Linked DNA regions of Homo sapiens: all the other regions are linked to region 2. Evidence: fine-mapped expression QTL. A gene starts in region 2. Each other region holds a variant in brackets. All regions are shown on one strand. Distances are between the middles of the regions. Region 1 overlaps AGPAT5 (1-acylglycerol-3-phosphate O-acyltransferase 5). Region 2 holds the start of AGPAT5 (1-acylglycerol-3-phosphate O-acyltransferase 5). Region 3 has its middle 30 kb from the start of MIR4659B.

Region 1 (5,226 bases), 26 kb before region 2:
GTGACTCAGACAAGACTTTAGGCACTGAAATAACCCAACACACCTTTTAAATTATGCCTTTATCACTTAAAGAAACAAAGACAAGCTTGAAGATTAAAACCAAAATAACAGATTTGACAAAAACCACACAGCACTTCATATAATGAAAAACAATAATTTAAAACACTGAAGTTGAATGGATTTGTATCTATTCTGGATTGTATTTTAGAACAGAAAAAGGACATTAGTGGAAAACCTGGTAAAGTCTGAATAAAAATCTGTAGTACAATTAATAGTGTGGTACCAATGTTTATTTCTTAGTTTTGACAAATATATACCATGTTATGTAAGATGTCAACATTAGATGTTAAAGCTAGATGAAGAAGGCTGGGCGTGGTGGCTCACACCTATAATCCCAGCACTGTGGGGGGCCGAGGCGGGCGGATCAAGAGGTCAGGAGTTCGAGACCAGCCTGGCCAACATGGTGAAACCCTGTCTCTACTAAAAATACAAAAATTAGCCGGGCATGGCGGTGCACGCCTGTAATCCCAGCTACTCAGGAGGCTGAGGCAGGAGATTGCTTGAACCCGTGAGGCAGAGGTTGCAGTGAGCCAAGATCGTGCCACTGCACTCCAGCCTGGGTGACAGACCGAGACTCCAACTCAAAAAAAAAAAAAAAAAAAAAAAGGCTATATAAAGAATAAACAGGAACACTCTGTTCTTTCTGACGTTTTTGTAAATCTAACATTGTTCCAAGTTTTGAAATTTATTAACCAAAAATGGGAGGCGGCTTCCATTAAGTATGTAGAATGCTGAAGGAATACTACTGCCAACCCTACAACAACAACAACACTGACAAGCTGTAGATTCATGACTTTTCTTAGACCCTTCAGAGAGCTGCAAGGTTGCAAGGCAACCAACTAACCCAAAAGTCTAAGGAAACATGGAAAACTCAAAGGAGAAACAAGATGCAAGTGGTTGTTTAGTTGGGGGCCAATGTAACAGATACCAGTAAAAAGAATTTAGCTAAAAATTTTAACAATTTTGCAGAAAGCCAAGTATGAGCCAGTGGAACAGACGAACCCCTGGGCTACAGACACAAGGAGAATGCAGCACATTTCACAGGCTCGACCCACAGACCTCCTGTGTACTCACAAGACAAAGAAAAAGGAAAACACACTGCGGTCAGGGAAGACTGGATGTAGGCTTGTGGGAGGGAAAAGCAGCCCTGTGGGAAGGGCTCAGGGCCCAGCCCACATCCTTCTTTCTACCTTTCCTATGGAACAGCAGCCTGAAACTGATGAACAGGGGCAACAAAACCCTGCTACCCATGGGGCACGGATGAATACTCGATGAGGCTGGGTGAAGAGAACAGGGAAAAACTCTTAGTAAAGGCAGGAATACATACTGGGCACAGACTTACAGCCAGAAGCAAGGCAGGATCAGAGAAGGCTCCACCCCTGAGATTCTCCCTAAGAATGAAAAGACACTTCCCTTCCCTCTCCTTCTACCACCAAACTAGCGAGAGTTCAGTAACAAGTATCCAAGAAGTATAGTGGGGAAAGGCATAAAGAAGAGAGCCACTCCAAGGTGCTATGTGAAAACGCTGAGTGTGAAATAGACACTGAGGAAAAGCTCTAGCGGGAGGACATCCCCAACCTACAAACAAAGTAATGAGTTCTACAGAAACCTGAAGCTGTGAGAAAAAGCACATGAGCAAAACCCAAATGCAGTGCACCTCCTCAGTGGACTGACTCCACTCCTCAACACTAAAGGCCAAGCAGAAAGACAAGTCTATCCATTTCCAGGTATCAAGACAACTTGCCTCCATTTCTCCTGTCTTACAAAAAAGGCCCAGCGTTAGGCAAAATCTTAGGAAGTATGACAAAGGCAAGATAAAGCACAATCTGAAGAGATAAAGTAATCAAAATTTGCAGACTCAGATATGGCCCAGATGTTGGAATTATCAAGCAGGGAATTTAAGAGAACTGCAAGTATAATAAAATGATAAAGGTTCAACTGGAAAACGTGACTAAGCTTTATGATCAGATAGATACACTAGCACAGAGATGGAAACTATGAAACAGGGTCAAAGGGAAATGTGAGGAATGAAACACGCAGTAGCAGAGATGAAGAGTGCCTTAAACTGGCTCACCAGTAGACTCAACACAGCCAAAGGAAGAATCCATGAACTCAAAGGTGGGTCAACAGAAATTATCCAAAATGTAACACAAAAAGAAAAAAGGGAGGGGGCGTAAAAAAAAAAATTAAAAAAAAAACCAACAAAAAACGAATAATGCATCTAAGAACTAAAGAACAGCGAGAAATGAACCAACACAAACATAACTGGAGAAGAAAGACTGGGGTAGGAATAATATTTAAGGAAATAAGAGCAAAGAAATTTCCAAAATTAATAACAGACACCAAATCATAGATCCAAGCTCAGAGGACCAATCCAGGTAAAAATTTTTAAATGACACTCAGATATATGATACTTAAACTGCTGCAAACCAAAAACAAGAAGAAACTCACGAAGGCAGCCACATAAACAAGACACATGACAAGTGTAAAGAGCTGATTTTTTCAGCCCTAGCGCCACTGGCAGCTATATTCATGGGGGCAAAAAAGCAAGGGGCCACTGTGCATAGGATGCCAACATCACCCAAAAGGCAGCTATCTTCATTTGCTTCATATATACAATGCCCACAGCAGGACACAGAAGGAACTCCACAGCAGTCATCCATTGCTGGGGTGACTGGACAGCTGGGAGAGAAGTGGGATGGACATTTTAAGGTATAAATTCATGATTTTTAAATTTTTTTTGTAAAAAGTCGATAAACCATATTACCAACTTATTCTGTCTTTTGGAGACCTACATGCAATGACCACAATTCTGCCCAAATTCACCACACTGTTTCAGACTAAACAGACCCTTTGAAGACACCAAGCTTGGTTCTCAAGGGTTAGCTATAACAGGATAAAGGGTCACTGTTCATCTCATTCCATTCTGCTTCTGTCACCCAACACATGCCCAAAACAGATGCAATGTTCTAATGTAAAAACACCTAGAAGAGGCATGTGAATAAACAATGCTCACACCAGGCACTTCGCCAGCTGACCGTGAAGAATTCTTCCTTCACCATGAGCTCCAGCTGCTGCCCAGGACCCCTGGTGAGGGGAGGGCA[G/A]GAGGAGAGGAGGGAAGACAGAGGGAGGGAGCCAGAAAGGAAAGGGAAAGCCTGTGCACACGAGCTAAGCTTCTGAGCACATGTCATGTACTGAAAGAGAAAGCCCAAGTCGCCCCGGTGATCATGGTGCTTTGTCTCCGGAGGGAACCAGGGGAAAAGCCTTTGGCAGCAATCAGCATTCTATACAAAGCAGATTGAACTCTCCCCACTTTTGTGGAATAAAGTTTTATAAAATATTATTTACACTGAATGATTTAACATTTGTAGAGATTCATCCTTTTTTGGTTTTTCTGTACATGTAAGACATTCAAAATTTGCACTAACAGAAAACAGTTGCTGCTTCTAAAACCAAATCTGATACTAAAGAAGACAAGAAGTAAGATGAGCTTGTAAACTAGCTTAAATGTCAGGTTAAAATGCAGTTAGTTCTATTTATAGACTCTGAACGACACCAAATGCTCTTTTTATTCCTCTTTAAGGTCCACTGACCAGCAAAGGACCTAGTTGTTTACAGCAATCTTTCTGATGGCTGAAAAACCTGCCTACCTGTACATAGAGGGTTTCTGTTACCTCAGCATAACCCTGAATTAGTAATTACACATGGGAAAATACATTGTCAAAACAATTCTTAGATTTTAATTTAATTCTTAAATTTAGAAACTGAGAGCTGGTAAGAAAAATAAAAACGGGTAGGCTCTTACTGGAGTTCCTGCGTCCACGTAGCTCTGCAACTTGTTTCGCATCTCTTTCTCGTTAAATTTGGCACTGCGCTTTACATAGATTCCTCCATGCTGCCACAATCAAATCGGGAGAAAGAGCATTTACTTTTAAAATAACAATTGGCCAGAGTCATCAAAAAGGCAACTTCTCTTGCAAAAAGTACAGAATGAAAACTACATTTCAGAATTTAATCTATATTTAATATCTTCAAACATTAGCTTCTAAAGAACATTTAGCTGAAAATTGCCTTGTCTCAACATAATTCAAAAAAACTGCATGTGACACTGTATTGGAAAACACATGAAGTTTAGTTTTGTTGGCAGTTAAAATGAAAATGCTTTCTTTCTTAAATACACATTTTTAAAAATAAAAAACCTGATCCATCAGATGGATTTAACTCCCAATTCTTCCACCCACTTATTACAGAGTCACTAAAAAGCGTCCTTAACATGTCTCACGATCTTTAGGGATTTTAAAAAATCAATCCTGCTAAAGATATTTATGTGGCACTGTTACGGACAGAAGTGTGTTCCCCCAAATCAGTCTACTAAAGCCCTAATAGTTCCCACTGTGACTGTATTCAGAGAGAGGGACTTAGAGGTGGTAATTAAGGTTAAAAAAGGGCCTCAGAGTGGGACCTTAGCAGTCTCTGTAGAAGGATTAGTCATCCAGTGTAACTAGTCCTTCTAAGAAGAGGAAGCAGTGCCAGCGGTGCTTGGGCACAGGGAAAAAAACCACCTGAGGACACAGGAAGAAGGATGCTGTCTGCAAGCCTGGGAGAGAGGCCTTGGGAGAAACTAACCCTGTCAACACCTTGATCTTGGATGTCTAGCCTCCAGAACTGGAGAAAGTAAGTTTTATATATACAGTTTGCTTTTTTTTTTTAATATCATACAGATCACTAATTACTGTTATCAACAGTTTAATGTAATTGCCTATCAAATTCTATGCCTTTAAATTTCCTATTTGTTTGAACTTTGTACATTTGCATTTTTGCTCTTTCATTTTACTGCAGCTGGCCCTTCACATCCATGAGTTCCACATCTGCAGATTCAACAAATCACAGATCAAAAATATGTGAACAAATAAAAATTAAAAATAATATAACAATTAAAATAATACAAATAAAAAATAAAGTATAACAACCATTTACATGGCATTTATAATGTATTAGATATTATAAGTAATCTAGAGATGATTTAAAGTAGTGCACAGGTTATATGCAAATACTATCCCATTCTATATGAGGGTCTTGAACACCTTAGATTTTGGTATCTGTGGTGGTTCTAAAACCAATCCCCACAGATGCTGAAGGAAAACCGCATATGGATAATCAGACGTA
Region 2 (5,226 bases):
TGCAAACGAAAGCTGATAAAAACAATTCAAGAAAAAAAGAGTGTCCTAACAAAACAAGAAAAGCAAGCTAAAAATTTTAATCAAAACATCTCAGTGACAAAGTTAATGGTACAAAGTCACAGGTAAAAAATAAGGTGACAGAACATCACTATAAATCTTTTTCCTTTGGGTCTTATGTTTGAAGATAGCTATTTATTCCTCTATTGATTTAATCTTAACAGAAACAATAAAAAATATTGAAAGGTAGCTTTGTGTACACAGGAAACCCAGATTGCAGAAAAAGACCCTAATAAATTCAAAATACCCTGCTCTGTTACTAAACAGAAAATAATTATTTGTCCCCTCCATACAATAAAAATAAAAATGCAGGAACAAGAAACTCTTGGTTTTAAATTTTTATTAAATGTTCATAACTTGCATTTGATGATCAGTGGGCAATCAGTTCGTTCTACGACTCCTAAAGAACTTCATCAAGGAACACACATTAAACAAAATTTTGAATTATACTTAAGGGTCCTCAGGCATCCTTTCATAAATGCATGAAAATTAGTGCTGGATGCCACTTCCTTTGATTTGAACAGACGGTGGGGGGAATGATTAGATTAAATGTTTTCAAAATCACTTGCTGGGAAATCAAGAAGTAAATCGGATCTCTGAACATCAGGTAAGGTATGCAATTTCAGAAACACTGCTAGGTTTTACAGCCATTTAAAAAAATAAGAACTTGCCAAACCAAAAAATCCTTCAATGGTGTATTCTGCATCATATTGTGTCCTCTTTGAACAAAAATAACATAACCCGCCACAGATAGAATTATTTTTTTAAGAGGTGAATGACTTTGTGTTCTGAGCTTATATCCCATCCCAGGCCAGTTGTCACATGATGTGGAAGTAAAAACTTAATCATGATAAAAATCATACATTTAGACAAACTTGGTGGAGTTACCATATAAAGGGAAAAAATTAGCCTGAATTATTGAAATTTTTAAATGAGGCCCATTTTAAACGTCAACTACCAGGAAACCATGACCTGGAACAGTATCTTTTTTTCTTTCCAAGGAGACACTTACAGACACTGGTTTAAATGGAGGCCCTGGCCTCTCCTAGTTCCTTCCCCCCAAACAACTTCCAACTGGGGCCATCAAGGGTCGATCAGCAGTGCAACTGCAAACTAAATATAGTACCTGACTGACCACAGGGTAAAAACAGCTGCTGTAGGTGGAAAAAAAAAAAGTTAAAAAGACAAAATGATACCGTCCCATTTCCCCATGCCACCCTAACCCTACCAAGAAAAGTAAAAGAGGACTAGGTGGACATTAGGAATAACCAAGAATAAAGCTGTTCTTTCAAACTGAGAAATAAAAGAAAAATTCACCTTTTTTTTTTTTTTATAACACTTCAAATACCTACTGTTAAAGAGGGCCTTCCACTTTTATGGTTTGTTTCTCAAGTTTAATCTACGAATCCAATCTCTACAGAGAAACAGTAACAGAAAGAAAGTAATCAGACAACAGATCACCCACACATTCAAGCCCAGTTAAAGTTGGCAAGAAATGTATCTAGTTAGGCTTCTACGGTTAACAAATGTATTCATTTCTTCGCCCAGCTTTCACTTGTCCAGGGGAAAGAACACAAGACCGAATTGTACTTCTGTTTCAAGAGGTCACTGTAAAAGCGCACTTCGGAGTGTAGACGTCTCCGATCTGTTCCAACATGACCACCTCTTTGGACCAAAGGCCAGAAACTGCTAAACGCGTGCCCTATTATTTAAAACGTGCATCTGCACCCACTTTGCTAAGCAGCATCAGACCCAGGCGAGGGGCGGGGAAAGGGGCGGCGGGTCCCACTCGTAGCCTCAGGACGACGCAGCCACAGCTTCCTAGAGAGCGATCTCGGCAGAACGGCAGGAAGCATGCGGAGAGGAAGGCGGGGAGGCGGCACGTGCTCTCCGTGCTGGGTCCGCCGGGCCGGCCGGGTGACCCTCGCCAGCTGTGGGGGAGCGGAGAGGTCCGCGCCCCCGGGAGCTCGGGTGGACGCCGAGACCCGGGAGCGGGAGGCGGCTCACCTGGACCCCGGTGTAATTCTCGAAGAAGAAGAGCACCATGCTCTGGTAGACGCAGTAGAGCCGGTCGTCCAGCGCTTGGTAGAAGCGGGCGGGCAGGAAGGCGGAGAGCAGCCGCCAGACCCCCCAGGCCAACACGTAGGTGGGCGCCGTGCCCAGGAGCACGACGCTGGGCAGCAGGTAGCGCATGGAGTACGTGTGGAGCACCAGGGACAGCAGCATCTTCTCAGCTCGGCGGCAGCGAGCTCCGCCTGCGCTCCCCGCCCGCCTCCCGGGCCTCAGTCGCGGCCAGCAGGCGGCCAATCACCGCCCGGGCCCGGGCCGCCGCGCCCGCCACCCGCTCCCAGCCTCCGCCCCCAGCCGCATGGGCCGCGCCGCCGCCCGGGGCCGGGTAGGCGAGTGCGGGGCTGCGTGCGCCGCTCCCGGCGGCAAAGCAAGGGAACCCGCGGCCCTCCCGGATCGATGGCTCAGGGATGCTCACACCCCATGACCCTCACCCATCGCCACATCCCCCTGCCGGGGCAGGGGGCTCCGCGGCAACAACGCGCCTTCTGATTGGTCGCCCGTTGCCATAGTTCCACCTCGGCGGCAATAACACGTCTCTTGATTGGTTGGTTTGGGCCGACAGTTGCAGTACAGCTACCTGCTGGGGCGCGGGCAACCCGGCTCCGGCCACTGCGCATGCTCCCCAGCTGGGCCGGCTGCGGACGCGGGAAGGGAGGTGGTGGCGACTGACGGAACTGGGTGAAGGTGGGTGCTGGCCGGAGGAGGGTCCGGGTGCCTCTTGTTCTGCTCCCTCGGGCCGGACGTGCGCGCGGTCAGGTTTAAGGGTCGCTGGAGCTGCCTGGAACGCGCACCTGCTGCTCACAAGCCCCTGGGCGCCGGGATGCACACAATTAGAGCAGTGAGAAAGTGGGTGTTAACGTTATCGGAGGTCTAATTCTTGCAGGCACCTGGGCCCAGGTTGTAGGCAGCTCGGCCCAGGTCGCGGGGCAGCTCGAGTGTCCCCATCTGCTCACTGCCAGTCCTTTGCAAGGGGACGCCGCCTCCTCAGCCTCCGCTCTGAGTGCGCAGCAGCCCCTCCTGCCCGTCTCTCGCTACCAGGGTGTTTCAGAATTAGGGTCCGTGTTTTTCCCCATCACAGTAATGATGATAATTACATGTTTATGCATAGCTGAAGAACAATCCCACAAGGATATTTCCATACTGTTTATTAGACCTTTTCAGAATTCACTCTTGCTTCATTTCCTCAGAGTCTGTTGGACTTGTTTCTGATTTTTTTTTAATAAGGAGCCTCGTTTTTTTCTGTAGTAATTAAAGTAGTTGCGTGCACATGTGTAATCCATAAAAAGCATACTTTTGTAGCCTTCACTAAAAGCTACGAAGGGTGGATAACTGTTTTATTGATGTTAAAGCAGATCCACAGGACTTTTGGATCTTTCTCCTCCCCTTTGGCTGTGGTAAAAATGGTTTAATATGTAACCCTTTTCAAGGATAGTTGTACTTTAAAAGAATGCCGAATGCTTTACCATATATATATATATATATATATATATATATATATATATATTCCCGCCCCCTCCCCACCACCACCATAATGGGAGCCTGTGCTACCTTTAGGCAGGACGGTATTTCAGTGGGAAGTTCTAATCAGGGCCAGGATGGTAGCTACTTTCTTTATACATGATTAACATCAAATAACAACATCATTGGTAGATGATGACCTTTGGGGACAAAGCCAGGTGAATGGAGATCTCTCAAGTAACAAGTATTTGAAGGCCAGCAGGAAGCATTACACAGTAAAAGGAGCTTCTCTCTTTCTGTGGCTGTCATTGTCCTGTACTGTAAGAAGCACTAGGTTTAGTACTGGTGGAAAAAAGTCACAGGTGTGGACAGTGTGCACAACTAATGCTCCTTATGCTTTCTTTAACTGAGACCAGACATCTCTACACTAGAACAGTGTGCGAAAAGATAAAGCAGGTTCTGTGTTCACGTTAGGATTGCTGTGTATAAAGTCAGTAAATATGTGTTTATGTGTAAATTTGTTGTGAATCACCCCAGATTACTGTTAGTCACGAAGTTGTAAACTTTTGTGCAATGTTTGCCATGAAAACACAGAACTTAACTTTCTCTTGTTCCCTCTTTATCTCCAAACCCAGCTCCTGACTATCAGTTATTGTCTGTCCTGCTCCCGCTCCTCTCTTCCTGCGAACAGTCACAGATCCACCCTCTCTTTCTGCCACTACCCGGCCCTGTTTTTCTGTTTTTTTTTTTTTCCCTTTTTCCGTGCAAACCTCTTAGTTGATAATCAGCCCACACCCTCTGCCTCCTTACCTTGTACTTTTGTTGAGCCCTTGCAGTCTGATGACCTTTTCCTCCCCTTTACTGGAATGGTGCTTCTTTCAGAGCACAGCTGATTTCCTCCTTTGCATACCCTGCTGGGCACCAGTGGAACAGTGAAAGGTGAATTCTGTCTATGCCTTCCTTGTACAACATTTAACAAGGAGTTACCTGTGGGATGAAAAGGGGACATTCTTGGTTCTCTGGGAGCATATATCAAGGCAATCTAATTTAGTCTGGAGACAAGGAAGACTTCTCAGTGAAATGGTATTTCAGGTGAAGCTTGAGGGACTTAGTGGGCTTTCCATGGGAGAATGGCACATTTGAACGCCTGAAGCTGAGAAATCACCATATTCTCATGCATAGCACTGGAGTGGGCCACAGTGTTCTTTTTAAAATTTGTTGAGATGCCCCTTGAAAGAATGCTGTGTATTCCCATCACACATTCTTAAACTGATATTTAAATGTTTTTCTCAGCTGGGCATGGTGGCCTATACCTGTAATTCCAGCACTTCAGGAGGCCAAGGAGGAAGGATCACTTAAGCGCTTTGTAGAGTGAGGCCTCCATCTCTACAAATATATTTTTTTAATTAGCTGGGTGTGATTGTGCATGCCTGTAGCCCCAGCTACTCAGGAGGCTGAGTTGGGAGGATTGCTTGAGCCCAGGAGTTCAAAGCTGCTATGAGCCATGATCGCGTCACTGCAATCCAGCCTGGGCAAAAGAGAAAGAGTCCATCTCAAAGAAAAAAAAAGGTGGGGAGAGGGGGGCTTTTAATGATAAATTTAAAAAGGCTTTTAATTATAAATTTAAGTAGTTATGAAGTT
Region 3 (5,226 bases), 67 kb before region 2:
GTTTGTATGTTGCCCCCTCTAAGTCTCATGTTGAATTGTGATGCCCAGTGTTGGAGGTGGGGCCTGGTGGGAGGTGTGGGGGCCATAGGGACAGATCCCTCATGATTTGGTGCTGACCTTGCATAGTGAGCAGGTACTTGCGAGATCCGGTTGTGAAAAGTGTGTGGCACCTCCTCCTTCTCTCTTGCTTCTGCTTTCACCATGTGACGTGCCTGTTCTCACTTCACCTTCCACCATGAGTAAAAGCTCCTTGAGACCTCCCCAGAAACTGAGCACAGGCAAGCGCTATGTTTGCTCAGCCTGCAGGACAATGAGCCAAGCCAACCTCGTTTCTTTATAAATTACCCAATCTCAGGTATTTCTTTAGAACAGTGAAGAATGGCTTCGTACACCACCTTCACAACCTCATCTAAACCTAATCACCTCCCAAAGGACCCGCCTCCAAATCCCATCACATTAGGGGTGAGGGCTTCAATGTGTGAATTAGGGGTGGGACACACATAGCCCATCACACCCTTGTCATTGGGTTTAACAAGTGATTGTTCTAAGGATGGGCTGATCAGCTCAGCTTGTGGAGACAGCGTAGCCTTCAGAAAGACAAACCCTCGGGTTGGGTTTTGAGAAGTGAGTAGGAGTTTGCCAGGGGAAGTGCATTACAGAGCAAGGAAAAGGGGATCCTGCCCAAGAGTTTAGGTGTCATCAATCTTTCTTTATAGTTCATAGAGTAAAATAATAACAAATGCATCCAATACATCACTCATTCAAAAAGCATTTAATTCAGCTGTTACTAACGTCCGTGTGAGAACGTGCCTGCGGAATCGCTGGTGATCGTTCTGCTCTTATGCCTTTTAAGAGCTCTCTAGACAGATGGACACGCACCGAGTTGCTTTGAGAATGTCAGACGTTAGAGGCGTATAGATCACAGTAACTGTAGGAGGGAGGGGAGATTTAAAGCATCCAGGTTGTCTTAATTTACTTCTGTCTGGCACAGGCTTTGTGTGTACTTGACTCTCCTGGGAAGCTTCCTGAGCTGGGGCCTGAATACAGGTGTGGAGGGAGCTCTGTGGGCAGAGACACCAGAGGGGCCTCACCAAAAGCCAAAGGCCCCACCCGCATCCAGAGTGGGGAGTGGAGTGGTCAGAGGAGAGGTGTGTGACTTTCCCGACGGAACACATCACGTCTTATGTGTTGGCATCTCCTGCTACACAGTGATTCTCAGAGCTTAGGGGTGATTTTGTATCAATCTCTTTATTAGTTTGCTTGGGCTGCGATAACAAATATCACAGAGTGCATGACTCAAACAATAGAAATTGATTTTCCCACAGTTCTGGAGAGTAGAAGGTATTGGCAGGGCTGGTTTGTCCTGAAGCCTCTCTCCTTGGCCCCTAGACGTGTGTTCTCCCTGTGTCCTTACAGGATTTTCCCCCAGGTGTATCCTCGTCCTAAATCTCCTCCATGTGTAAGGACCCAGTCAGATTGGATTAGGGCCATGTAATGACCTCGTTTTACCTTAATTACCTCTTTAAAGTCATATCTCCTTCTGAGTATTAGGGGTTAGGACTTCAACAGAAGAATTTTAGGAGGACCGAATCCAGCCCGTAACAATCTCCATGACCCCAGAACCACCTGGCACAGGGATGTGTTTTGCACATGTTTACTTGGTCAGCCTAAAGGCCTTTTTACTTCTGCTAAACAGCTTCAGGCCCTGGAAAACAGGGCTAACTTGTTAACTGGCAGGTTGAGGGCAGGAAGATCTGTGGATTGGGCTCTGCCAGGCAAGGCTGGGCTGCAGGCTCGGGCAGATTTTGAGTGCCATAAGAGGGTGCTGGGCAGGGCTGGGCTGCAGGCTCCGGCAGATTTTGAGTGTCATGAGAGGGGACAGCCAGGGGCTCTCTGGACTTCAGCAAGGGCTCCTGCCAGGGTCTGAGCACCCAGGTGGAACAGGTTCCCTAGCGGATGCCTCTCAGCGCCTTCCCAGACTCCTCCATTCCATGAACAAGCCAGGACCTGCTGAGGGGGACCAGGAGGTTCACACCTCAAGTGCAGTGGATAATAGCCTACTCACGGCTCACCCCAAATCCATCCTTTACCCTGATGTCACCTGTGGCAAATAACAACAGAGCCAACTCCCACTCACTGTCCAGAAGCCTGCCTGGTAAGGGCTTTGGAACCCAAGGAAAGACACCGAGAAACACTGCAAGAGGCTGCAGCCATCACAGCCCTGCGCCTTCAGAGTTCGGCACTGCTTGTCCAAGTCACTGTTCCCTTGAAGGAAGACACTTTGTAAACACAAAGAACAATGAGAAAGCATCGAGAAGAATAGAATCTTTGTCAGGAGCCAGGCTTCAGT[C/A]CTGCCCAGCAGGTCCCTGCCATGGGGGAGGGAGGCCACCCCTGTTTCTCCAGGGAGGGGCGGGTTTCAATCCAGGTCCGCTTGTCCAGCTTGCTCTGTGAGCAGTTTCAGCCACACACCCACACAGCATCGAGTTAAGGACTGGAAGTTACTGTTTCTATAGCTGGAAGGGAACGTGAGGGTGGTCTCCATCTACCCACTTTTTCGTAGATGAGAGATTCCGGCCCAGAGCGGCCGGTGTCTCGCCAACGCAGACAAAGATCGGGAGCAGAGCCACATTTCCAGCCGGTGGTGTTTCTCGATGCCTCCCTTTGGAGCTGCACCAAAGGCTCTGAGGCACGTGCAGAAAGCCCTGGTCTGGGGATTAAGCAAATAGATTTGGACTCTCCTATTCTTTCAGTAACTTTGAATCGATTATTTAATCTGTGATGTGTGAGCTTCCTTGGCCTCAGCTGTAAAATCAGGAGGAGTTTCTGTTTCACAGGGTTCTCGTAAGGAGCGGGCAGGATAACGACACCAAGTGCCGACACATGGCCAGGTGCACATGAGGCAGGACCCAGTGTGTGGTCGCTCCCTTTCCCCAAGCGGCCTCTCCTGCCCCACACCTGGACTCCTGCTAGACGCACACACCGCGCTCTTCCCAGCCATAGTGAGGCCTTTCCCTGGGTGTTGTCCCGGCCTGCAGTGACCCTTCCTGCTAGTTCATCTGTTTTCTAGAGCTCCGTAGACAATTACACCTATGCTCACATGGCAGCACTTCTAATGGTTAGGTCTGTGACCTTGGGCATCTTCTATCTGTTCTGGGATTTTGTTTCTTTTTCTGTGCAGTGGGAATAGTGACGCCAACTCTATACAATTGCGAGGGTTAAATAAGGCAGGTGGCAGGCTGGGGTGCAGTAGGCATTTGAGCTATGACCACTCATTGCTGTGGCTATTGCTGCTGCCTCAGGTCTGGTTTGAGACCTGTCTTCCGGTTTCTCTACGGAAGTGAGAAGCCGTGAGACACAGTGTGACCTGTGGCAGTTCTCTGGCCATTGTCCAGGCAGCGTGTGCACCTGTGTGCTGAGGGCTGGAATCATGGCTCAGGTGGCATGGGGCAGAGTCGGTGCTAGGGATATGGGTGGGGGCGCTAATCTGGGAATGTGAGGACATCAATACTCTGGGTCATAGCTTGCAGGATTAATTGTGGCTTGGAGGTCAGGCCCAAGGGGTGCTGCTGATGGCAGCCAGCATGTCGGCTTTCAAGAGTGTGGTCAGGAGTTTCTTAACCATCCAAAGATCTTCAGCCTGGGGAAGAGGCATCAGCATGTCCTTCCCTTTATTCAGGAAGACACCAAGCACATGCTGACCTTCGAAGGACAGTGATTTTGGCCAAGATCGCCCCTCCACAAGGACATAGACAAGGCCAGGACCTTAGAGTTAGAAAGAATTGAGTGTGCCTTGTAAATCCCCTTTCTCCCTTCCTCAAGTTTAATATAAATATCCAGCCATGGCAGGAAGACAGGCCAGCCCAGCCCAACTCAGCCCAGCCCAGGCAGCTGCTGCAAGAGATGACAAGCACCAGGACTGCCCCGGCCTCCCCAGAAGACAGGCTCCACGCTAGTGGCAGGGGCAGGCAGGGCTTGCAGGTGAGAGACAGGGGCAGCTGTGGGGGTTGGCAGCTCTCACTGCCGCTGCCCGGGCTGGGCTGGGTCGGGTTGGTCTGGGCATGTGCCAGCTGCCAGTGCCTGCTTATCTGTGACTCAGCTGCTACAGCATCAGGCACTGAAGTTGGTTCCTCATCATCAGTGAGCTGCTCCCACCGCCCCCAGGCCTGGTTGAGGCCTTGGGGACCTGCAGAGGACCCCATGCTGCCTCTAACCAGGTGAGCCCAGGGCCACGCTCTCATGCTCTCTAGCCTCAGCCTCCATATGGGAAAGTCTCTCTGCAGGTTCTCTCTGCTCCATGACTCAGGTCCTGTGAGACCAGGGAGTGGGCTGCCCGGACTCTGACTGGCCTCCAGGAGGTGGGGACAGGCTGTCCAGGCCCCCGCAGAGATCCCCGGGATGCTGCATCGGCCGTGAGTTTATGAGCTTGCCCCCAGAGAACATGACCTCACCTAAATGGAGCTGACACGTTTTACAGGGGACTGGAAGCACATCTGAAAGAGACCGTTCCACAGAGCTAGTTTTGCTTTTTTACTGCCCCATTAGAAGGAGTGGGGGTGTTTCTAGCTGGGACCGAGCTCCAGCTTGAAGGCAGTGGTTCCCAGTAGGGAATGCGACCCCACGGGGGAGGGACGCAGCCTGGGGGAAGCTGAGCGTGCACACAGCGCGGTGGGCTCACGGTTTGCGCGCAGGCTGGCACAGACTCACGTGAGGACATTTTTAGGGCGTGTGCGGCGATGAATGCAGCAGAGATGCGCTTGTCTGTAGGCTGGGAGTGGGAGGGAGGGGATACTGGCAGCGTGTGCTTCCGGCTGCAGGACTGTGCGGAGGACTCCAGTGTCTGACAGCGGCCTGGGCGTAGAGGGATTGAGTGTGGTTCCCACTGGGGTCCATCTCCCCTCGTGAAGTGCCGTCCTGCCACCAGGCAGCCCCCAGGGGTGGACAACACCAGAGCTCAGGGGCTTGAATGCTAAGGGCTTCCCGCTTGCTTTCCCCTTCACGCATGTAACCCTGAATTCTTACCTTTCACCCAGCGTGGATGAACGCAGGCGCTGCTCCTCATCTGCGGCTGTCCAGACAGGCTTTCAGGTCACGCTTAATGAGAAACCTCGGGTGTCTGATCTTGTCCGTTAGCTAGGCCTTTTCTCATCTTCTATGGTTTCAAAATAAAATACCAGGAGCTTCTTTTACCCCTGTGACTCTAGGCTACCCTTGTCATTTCAGTCTTTA

What was found. PIP is the estimated chance that this variant, and not a neighbour inherited with it, causes the effect. A credible set is the group of variants that fine-mapping cannot tell apart.
Region 1: its variant is the best candidate, but not a certain one, in a credible set for the expression of AGPAT5 in spinal cord (GTEx, PIP 0.61).
Region 3: its variant is the best candidate, but not a certain one, in a credible set for the expression of AGPAT5 in esophagus mucosa (GTEx, PIP 0.81).

The regions. Positions count from the first base shown.
Region 1 is chr8:6,731,290-6,736,515 of GRCh38, reverse strand. AGPAT5 (1-acylglycerol-3-phosphate O-acyltransferase 5) reads right to left here. Exons shown (of 8, transcript NM_018361.5): 4 at 3,866-3,955. Among named protein-coding and RNA genes, the nearest start is that of MIR4659A, 11 kb to the left of the region's middle. RefSeq lists an enhancer at 1-31. The variant G/A (reference allele first, on the strand shown) is at 3,165.
Region 2 is chr8:6,705,726-6,710,951 of GRCh38, reverse strand. It overlaps AGPAT5 (1-acylglycerol-3-phosphate O-acyltransferase 5), which reads right to left and starts at 2,310. Exons shown (of 8, transcript NM_018361.5): 1 at 2,065-2,310. The coding sequence starts at 2,283. It overlaps MCPH1-AS1 (MCPH1 antisense RNA 1), which reads left to right and starts at 2,743. Exons shown (of 5, transcript NR_125386.1): 1 at 2,743-2,811. RefSeq lists silencers at 1,917-2,156, 2,217-2,556.
Region 3 is chr8:6,772,907-6,778,132 of GRCh38, reverse strand. No RefSeq gene overlaps it. Among named protein-coding and RNA genes, the nearest start is that of MIR4659B, 30 kb to the right of the region's middle. RefSeq lists an enhancer at 3,511-4,011. The variant C/A (reference allele first, on the strand shown) is at 2,351.